Homo sapiens: one gene and its partner. The protein of the gene in region 2 interacts with the protein of the main gene of each other region in a pairwise test. Each region holds a gene or a part of one and is shown on either strand. Other genes may lie near its edges.

Region 1 (3,749 bases), on a different chromosome or scaffold from region 2:
GTGATACCTGAATTGAATCTTGAAGAAAGGAATACAATTTTTCTGAGGGTGTTGGGTGGAGTGGAAGAATATTCAAGAGAGAGGCACTAGAGAGTCAAGGTTTGATAAACTACAAGTTCCACAATATTACTGGAACAAAAAGTGCATGGGGAATGTTTTTAAAGGGCAAGGTCAGCATCAAAACATATTTTACAGCATGCTACATAAAAATGCTAAACATGACATATTTTTGTTTTAAGCTAAGAAGTTATCTGAGTGAGAGGCTCCAGGAAAATAGTTACATCCATCACTTAAAACTCACTGGGACTCAGTTTTCTCATTTGTAAAGTAGAGATTAATTATAGTACCTACTTTGCATTCTTGCTAGAATTAATGCGTTAAATACATTCAAGTGCTCAGAAAAGTTCCTGGCACGTAAGAGCTGTCTTATTATTTCATCTTGGATAATGGTGGTAACTTTACTGAATAAAACACTGACTTGATTAACTGTAATAAGTTAATTTAGATAATAATAAACAAGCCAGCTGGGCATGATGGCATACACCTGTAGTTTCAGCCACTCAGGAGGCTGAGGCAGGAAGATTGCTCCAGCCTGGGAATTCCAGCCTCTCTCACTAACAACATCAGGCTGGCACCTTTCTACTGATCATTTAAATGTCCTTCTCTCTGTGAAACTTTCTTGGCTTACTTGGCAGAGTTAAGCACTCTTCCCTTGCACATCCACTGCACCTTACTGTAGTGACATTATTTATTCACATTTCTACTTCTCTCTTAGACTATGAATTTCTTCAGGGCAATTCTTTGTAACTCTAACACTGGCAGAGTGCTTGAAACATAGCGGGTAGTCAATAAATGAGAGAGGAGCTGAACTGAAATGTGGTCCTGAGAACAGTGACCGATGAGGAACACAGCAGTGAGAGTTAGGAGACCTGAACTGAGTCCCATCTCTGCCTTCAGGTCCCTGGATGGCCTCTAGCAAGGTTTTTAACCCATTTGACCAACAGATTCCTCATTTGTGAGATGGCGCTAATAATACTGCCTAATTCTATCCAAATTTCTGTGAAGATCAAATAAGAACATACTTGTGAATGAAGCCCTTTTGAAAGAGTAAACAGCTATGAAAATGGAAGGTAATAATAACAATGTTGTAACATGGCTGTTTAGCCCTGCCAGACATCAAAGCAGTGATCCTTTTTTAGTAATCTCAAAATACTTCTAACATGGAAGAGAAGTGGAGGATTTATAAATAAATGTACAGTGTATTACCATCTTGTATGAAAACTAATTATTTCCCATGACATGATGGGAAAATGTGTGTCATTCCCAAATTCTTGCCACTTTGACTTTGCCACAGCTTCTTTCTAAAGCTACAGCTTCTCTGCCTACTGTTTATCATCGGCAAGGGTTTATCTCCCTTCACAGAAACTTCACAGGGGATCAGAAAAAGGATTGCTGCCAAGTTCCAATCTGCTTTGCATTCAGCAGCTTGCAGAATAGGAGAGGGCCACTGGAAAGCAGAAGCTTAAACAGCAACTCTGCCAGATGTCTGTAATGTTTATAGTGGAAAATGCCAGAATGTCCAGCTACCCTGAAGGGCTCCTTCTGAGACTCAATCTTCCTTAGACGATGGGAAAACACACAGAGAATACAGTGATACTCTCAGTCTTGTTCTTATGAGTAAAATGTGGGCAAAATGATTCCTGGCATCACTAACTTTGGGTGGATTATAAAGTCTGACCCCACCCACTTCTTGGATCAGTACCAACAAGGAAGTTCCTAAGCTGGTTTCTGGTATTTGTGACATGAGAAGGCAACATGGCCAGGCTCCATCACCATGCTGAGTATCTGGCCTTTGGCCAGGAAACACTGACAGCATTCTTCTGTCCTTCCCCCTTCATGATGTTTTCAGGTTTTCTGTATGCAACGGTTATTAAGTCTCCTAAGGACATGGTTCCCAGGATGGCCATCACTTTTTCGGGGGCTATGAGGGAGCTCATGTACAATGCATTTAGCATGGAGCTGTGGAAAAAACAGCACTATACAAAGAATCCGAAGAGCTCAATTTTAGTCTTGGCTCTGCCACTGTAATCTGGAGGAATTCCTTTGTTTCACTGCAACTATATACTTTCTAGGGATTCTGCCATGAGTTTCATCTATGATAATACTTGTGAAGTAGTTTGAAAAGGCACAAAATAATCACTAGTATAAAATATTATGTTTTATCTAAAATGCCCAACAAGCAGTTTCTAATTCTTTGGTTTCTAACCAATTTATCTAGAATAAAACCTTAAGAAAAAAAATAATGAACTAATAGGGTTTTCTATCAGAAACCCATAGAAGAGAAATGTGGTAGTAAAAATGTTGATAGTAATAACAATGATGATATTATTATACTTACATTAGCATTACACTATGTTTTGTAATAATCATTCCTCGGTATCTGTGGGAGATTGATTCTAGGACCCTCAGAGGATACCAAAATCCAAGGATGCTCAAGTCTCTTATATACAGTGGCACAATATTTGCATATAACTTATGCACATCCTCCTTTATACATTAAATCCTTTCTGAAGTACTTATAATACTTAACACAATGTAAATACTACATAAATAGTTGCTATACTACACCGTTTTTAAAAATTTGTATTATTGTATCATTGTCAATTGCTTTTTTCCCTAAATATTTTTGATCCATGGAGCCAACCGTATAATCTATGTACATTTTCCTGTACACTTTAAATCATCTCTAGATTACTTCTATTATCCAATACAATACCTACACATCACTTTATTCATGTGGATTCAATGCCATGCTTGATGCATGGCAAATTCAAGTTTTGCTTTTTGGAACTTTGTGGAGTTTTTTCCTAATATTTTCAGTCTGCGGTTGGCTGAATCCCTGTATGCAAAACCCATGCATGCAAAGGGCCAACTGTAATAGTAACAGTAAGAACTTATATAGCACTTACTATTTGTCAGCCATTGCTCTAAGCACTTGGCACATATATCTCACTTCTCAGAACCACCTTATACAGTAGTTCTTACTATTACAAATGTCTATTTTCTGGATGAGGAAACTGAGGCACAGAAAAGTTAAAGAACTTGCTTAAGGTCACTGAGCTAGAAATGCTGAAGGCAGTCAAGGTCTAAAGCCTGTGCTCTGGCAGGGAACGGTGGCTCATGCCTGTAATCCCAGCACTTTAGGAGGCCAGAACGGATCACCTGAGGTCAGGAGTTCGAGACCAGCCTGGCCAACATGGCAAAATCCCGTGTCTACTAAAAATACAAAAAAATTAGCCGGGCGTGGTGGCGCACATCTATAGTCTCAGCTACTCGGGAGGCTGAGGCACGAGAATCACTTGAACCCAGGCGGCGGAGGTTGCAGTGAGCTGAGATCACACTACTGCACTTCAGCCTGGGTGACAGAGCAAGATTCCAATTAAAACAAACAAACAAACAAACAAAAATTTAAAATAAATAAATAAATAAAGCCTACACTCTAACTATTCTGTCCCTCATTGTAAAGCACTTTCACATATGATACCTCAGTTATTCAAAGAAAACCTTACCTCCTGAGGAGGAATATCAAATGAAATAGTTCTCATGTCCACTTTGATGAAGCTGTCAGTGCATGGCAGAATAAAAAACAAACCTGCAACAAAGATACACACATTATACAGACACCAGCAACCTAATCAGTTCACTTCTCCATTCAGTTTTAAGAAAATCAACCTAGTGAACTGAAAAGT
Region 2 (3,749 bases):
CAGGCTGGAGTGCAGTGGTGCGATCTTGGCTCACTGCAACCTCCACCTCCCGGGTTCAAGCGATTCTCAGCCTCCCTAGTAGCTGGGATTACAGGTGCCCACCATTACACCTGGCTAATTTTTGTATTTTTAGTAGAGACAGGGTTTCACCACGTTGTCCAGGCTGGTCTTGAATTCCTGACCTCATGTGATCTGCCTGTCTTGGCCTCCCGAAGTGCTGGGATTACAGGTGTGAGCCACCGTGCCTGGCCAGAAATTTATGTGTTTTTCATTTACAGCACATCTCAATTTGGACCAGTCCCATTTCTTTTTCTTTTTTCTTTTTTTTTTTTTGAGACGGTCTGTTGCTCAGGCTGGAGTGTAGTGGCGAGATCTTGGCTCACTGCAACCTCCGCCTCCCGGGTTCAAGCAATTCTTCTGCCTCAGCCTCCTGATTAGCTGGGACTACAGGTGTGTACCACCACGCCCGGCTAATTTTTGTATTTTTAGTAGCGATGAGGTTTCACCATATCTGCCAGGCTGGTCTCGAACTCCTCACCTCGTGATCTGCCCCCCTCGGCCTCCCAAGGTGCTAGGATTACAGGTGTGAGCCATCGTTCCCGGCCTGGACCAGCCCCATTTCAAGGGCTCAGTGGCCCCATTGGAGCCACTAGACACGATTCTGGACGTCAGGCAGAGACCAATGTAGTTCCCCTGTCCATAGGGCGGAGCAAAGTGTGGAGGGGGGCCGGGCGGGGTGGCTCAGGCCTGTAATCCTAGCACTTTGGGAGGCTGAGGCGGGAGGATCACCTGAGGTCAGGAGTTCAAGACCAGCCTGGCCAACCATGGGGAAACCCCGTCTCTACTAAAAAAAATACAAAAATTAGTCGGGCGTGGTGGCGGGTGCCTGTAATCTCATCTACTTGGGAGGCTGAGGCATGAGAATCGCTTGAACCCGGGAGGCGGAGGTTGCGTGAGCCGTCATTGCGCCACTGCACTCCAGCTGGGGGACAGAACGAGATTGTTTCAAAAACAAAACAAAACAGAAAAACAAAGTGGGGCGGGGCTTTCATTAAAAACGGCAGTGAAGCCACCCCAGAATGGGGCTGGGGCTCAAGGTTCTTGCAGGTTGGGGGTTCCCAAATGGGGAGCTTTTCGCGACTCCGTTTCGCCTTTCCTTCCCTCCCACTCAAGAGTCTCCTCCCATAGTGACCTCCTCGCCAACCAGACTCCGCAGCCCGCGACCCCAGCCCCTAGCCCTCTCCTGCTGTTCCCGGTGTACCCCGGGGGCCGCCCACCTCAGAATTTACCCCTTCGGCGCCGCCTGTCATGTGGATGCTGCCTTGCCTGTCACTCAACTTCTTACCCCGCCCCCGCGTCTGGCCTAACCGTCGCTTACCTTGGTTTCCACAGCGACGCCATCAGGGGGCGTGGCAAAGGGACGCGCGGGGCAGAGACCTCCTTTGGATTGGTGGATGGTCAAGCCCCTTCTCTTTAGCCCCTCCTACAGGCGTTCCGCCCCCTTCGATTGGTCTCGCAAGTTGATTGGTCAATCCCCTGGTGCTAGTCCTAGTCTTGGTTCGGACCGGCCCCAAGGAGCAGGGGCGAACGTGGGCGCCTCGTGCCCTGATTGGCCGACGGGGCGCGCGCGGCCTGGAGGGGCGGGGCGGACGCAGAGCCGCGTTTAGTCTATCGCTGCGGTTGCGAGCGCTGTAGGGAGCCTGTGCTGTGCCGCGCAGTTAGGCAGCAGCAGCCGCGGAGCAGTAGCCGCCGTGGGAGGGAGCCATGAAGCATTACGAGGTAAGAAGCGAGAAACAGGGGCCGTGTGGCCACTGCTGACCCATTCTTTTTCCTTCTTTGCGGGACCACGGGACCCCACTTTCTGGTCCTGTGCCCCGAAGGAAGAGCCAGACGGCGCAGGCGCAGTGGGCAAGCGTTGCGCCCCGGGCCACTCGTAAATTCCAATGCGCATGTGCGCAGGAAGTATTTATAAATCTGCAACCCAGGCTGTTTTGGGGGTACTTTTTCTTGGGGGTCTCTGCAGGGGCTGGGACGCTTGCAGGTTCCTTGCAGCTCCCCCAGCGGGCTGAGTTGCAGACTTTGTCATGGGAGCCACGAAGGTGCGGGACCCTTGCTCCCAATCCGAGGGAGTCTTGCACAAATCTTGCGCCACGCCGCCGTCACCAGCGTAGGAAGGGGCTTTGCTATCAGTATTCTTGTGTACGACCTTTGGACCCCTTCCCTCGCCCGGGACGTTCCCGGGAGACTTAGGCGGTGAGGGAGGTGCAGCTCCACGGCTGGCTTTCGCAGAGCAGCGAAGCTGATCTTGCTTTCTGGTTATCAAAGAGGTCATCTACGTCAACCCTTGGGTGTCACCAAGGAGAAATCTTATACCCACCCACAGCCACTCTTGAAGCCCAAGTCTTCTGACTCCTAACTTGGGTCTCTTTTTCCCTTAAAACGAAGTCTTCTGATGTGCTTATCGCCCTAGGTGATAATATAATATTAATAATTCAACCAATTATCCCTGAATTATTGCTGACTTTTAAGTAACTATCATCAAATAATAAAATTTGTTATTAAAATTCAAAATAACAATTTAGCAAGTGCTTACTCTTGTGCTGGTGAGATTCTGTTACCTTGTATAAGAACTATTATTATTCCTGTTTGTAAGGATGAATAAAGTCTCAGAGATATAAAGTGACTTGTTCAAAGGCCCCTAGTTAGTAAATGCAAAACAGATAGGGGAACTCAGGACGCCAAGGTCTTAGTTCCTAGCCACTATGCCATGCTGGTCCTCAAATGAAAAATAGCAGGTCGAGCGATTTCTTGTTTCTCACTTCCCCTCCAATTTAAAAAATTCTGGCAAAATACACATAAAATTTACCATCTTGACTATTTTTAAGTGTGCAGTTCAGTGGCATTAAGAACATTCACATTGTTGTGCAACCATCACCACCACCCATCTCCAGAACTCTTTGCATCTTGGAAAACAGAAGCTGTAGACGTTAAATACTAACTCCCCATTCCTCTCCACCTCCACCTCTGGCAGCCACCATTCTACTCAGCCACCATTCCGTCTTAATGAATTGACTACTCTAGGTACCTTGGATACGTAGAAGGATTTTTTTTTTCTTTTGGAGACAGAGTTTCGGTCTTATTGCCCGGGCTGGAGTGCAATGGCGCGATCTCGGCCTACTGCAAACTCCGCCTCCTGGGTTTAAGCGATTCTCCTGCCTCAGCCTCCTGAATAGCTGGGATTACAGGTGACCGCCACCATGCCCGGCTAATTTTTTGTATTTTTAGTAGAGATGGGGGTTTCACCATGTTGACCAGGCTGGCCTCAAACTCTTGACCTCAAGTGATTTGCCCTCCTCGGCCTCCCAAAGTACTGGGATTACAGGTGTGAGCTAGTGCGCCCGGCTGTTTGTTTTTATTGACAAGTTGAATATTACTACCTCTGCCTCCTGCCCCCTTTATTGCTACTATTTTTGGAAATTTACCCACAATCCTTTGAAGCCTTTTTTTGAGACGGAGTTTCGCTCTTGTTGAGTACGCTGGAGTGCAATGGCGTGATCTTGGCTCACCGCAACCTCCACCTCCCGGGTTCAAGTGATTCTCCTGCCCCAGCCTCCTGAGTAGCCGGAATTACAGTCATGAGCCACCATGCCCGGCTAATTTTGTATTTTTAGTAGAGACAGGGTTTCTCCATGTTGGTCAGGCTGGTCTCGAACTCCCGACCTCAGGTGATCCACCCACCTTGGCCTCCC

The links.
Region 1: the proteins of TECR (region 2) and STOM interact in binary tests that used the Homo sapiens proteins (3 or more experiments, as listed by UniProt).

Annotation. Positions count from the first base shown.
Region 1 is NC_000009.12:121,349,651-121,353,399, forward strand, and holds part of STOM (stomatin), read right to left. Parts: intron 3,653-3,749; coding exon 3,570-3,652; intron 1-3,569. UniProt on the Homo sapiens protein: Regulates ion channel activity and transmembrane ion transport. Regulates ASIC2 and ASIC3 channel activity.
Region 2 is NC_000019.10:14,527,933-14,531,681, forward strand, and holds the start of TECR (very-long-chain enoyl-CoA reductase), read left to right. Parts: upstream 1-1,661; 5' UTR 1,662-1,764; coding exon 1,765-1,779; intron 1,780-3,749. UniProt on the Homo sapiens protein: Involved in both the production of very long-chain fatty acids for sphingolipid synthesis and the degradation of the sphingosine moiety in sphingolipids through the sphingosine 1-phosphate metabolic pathway.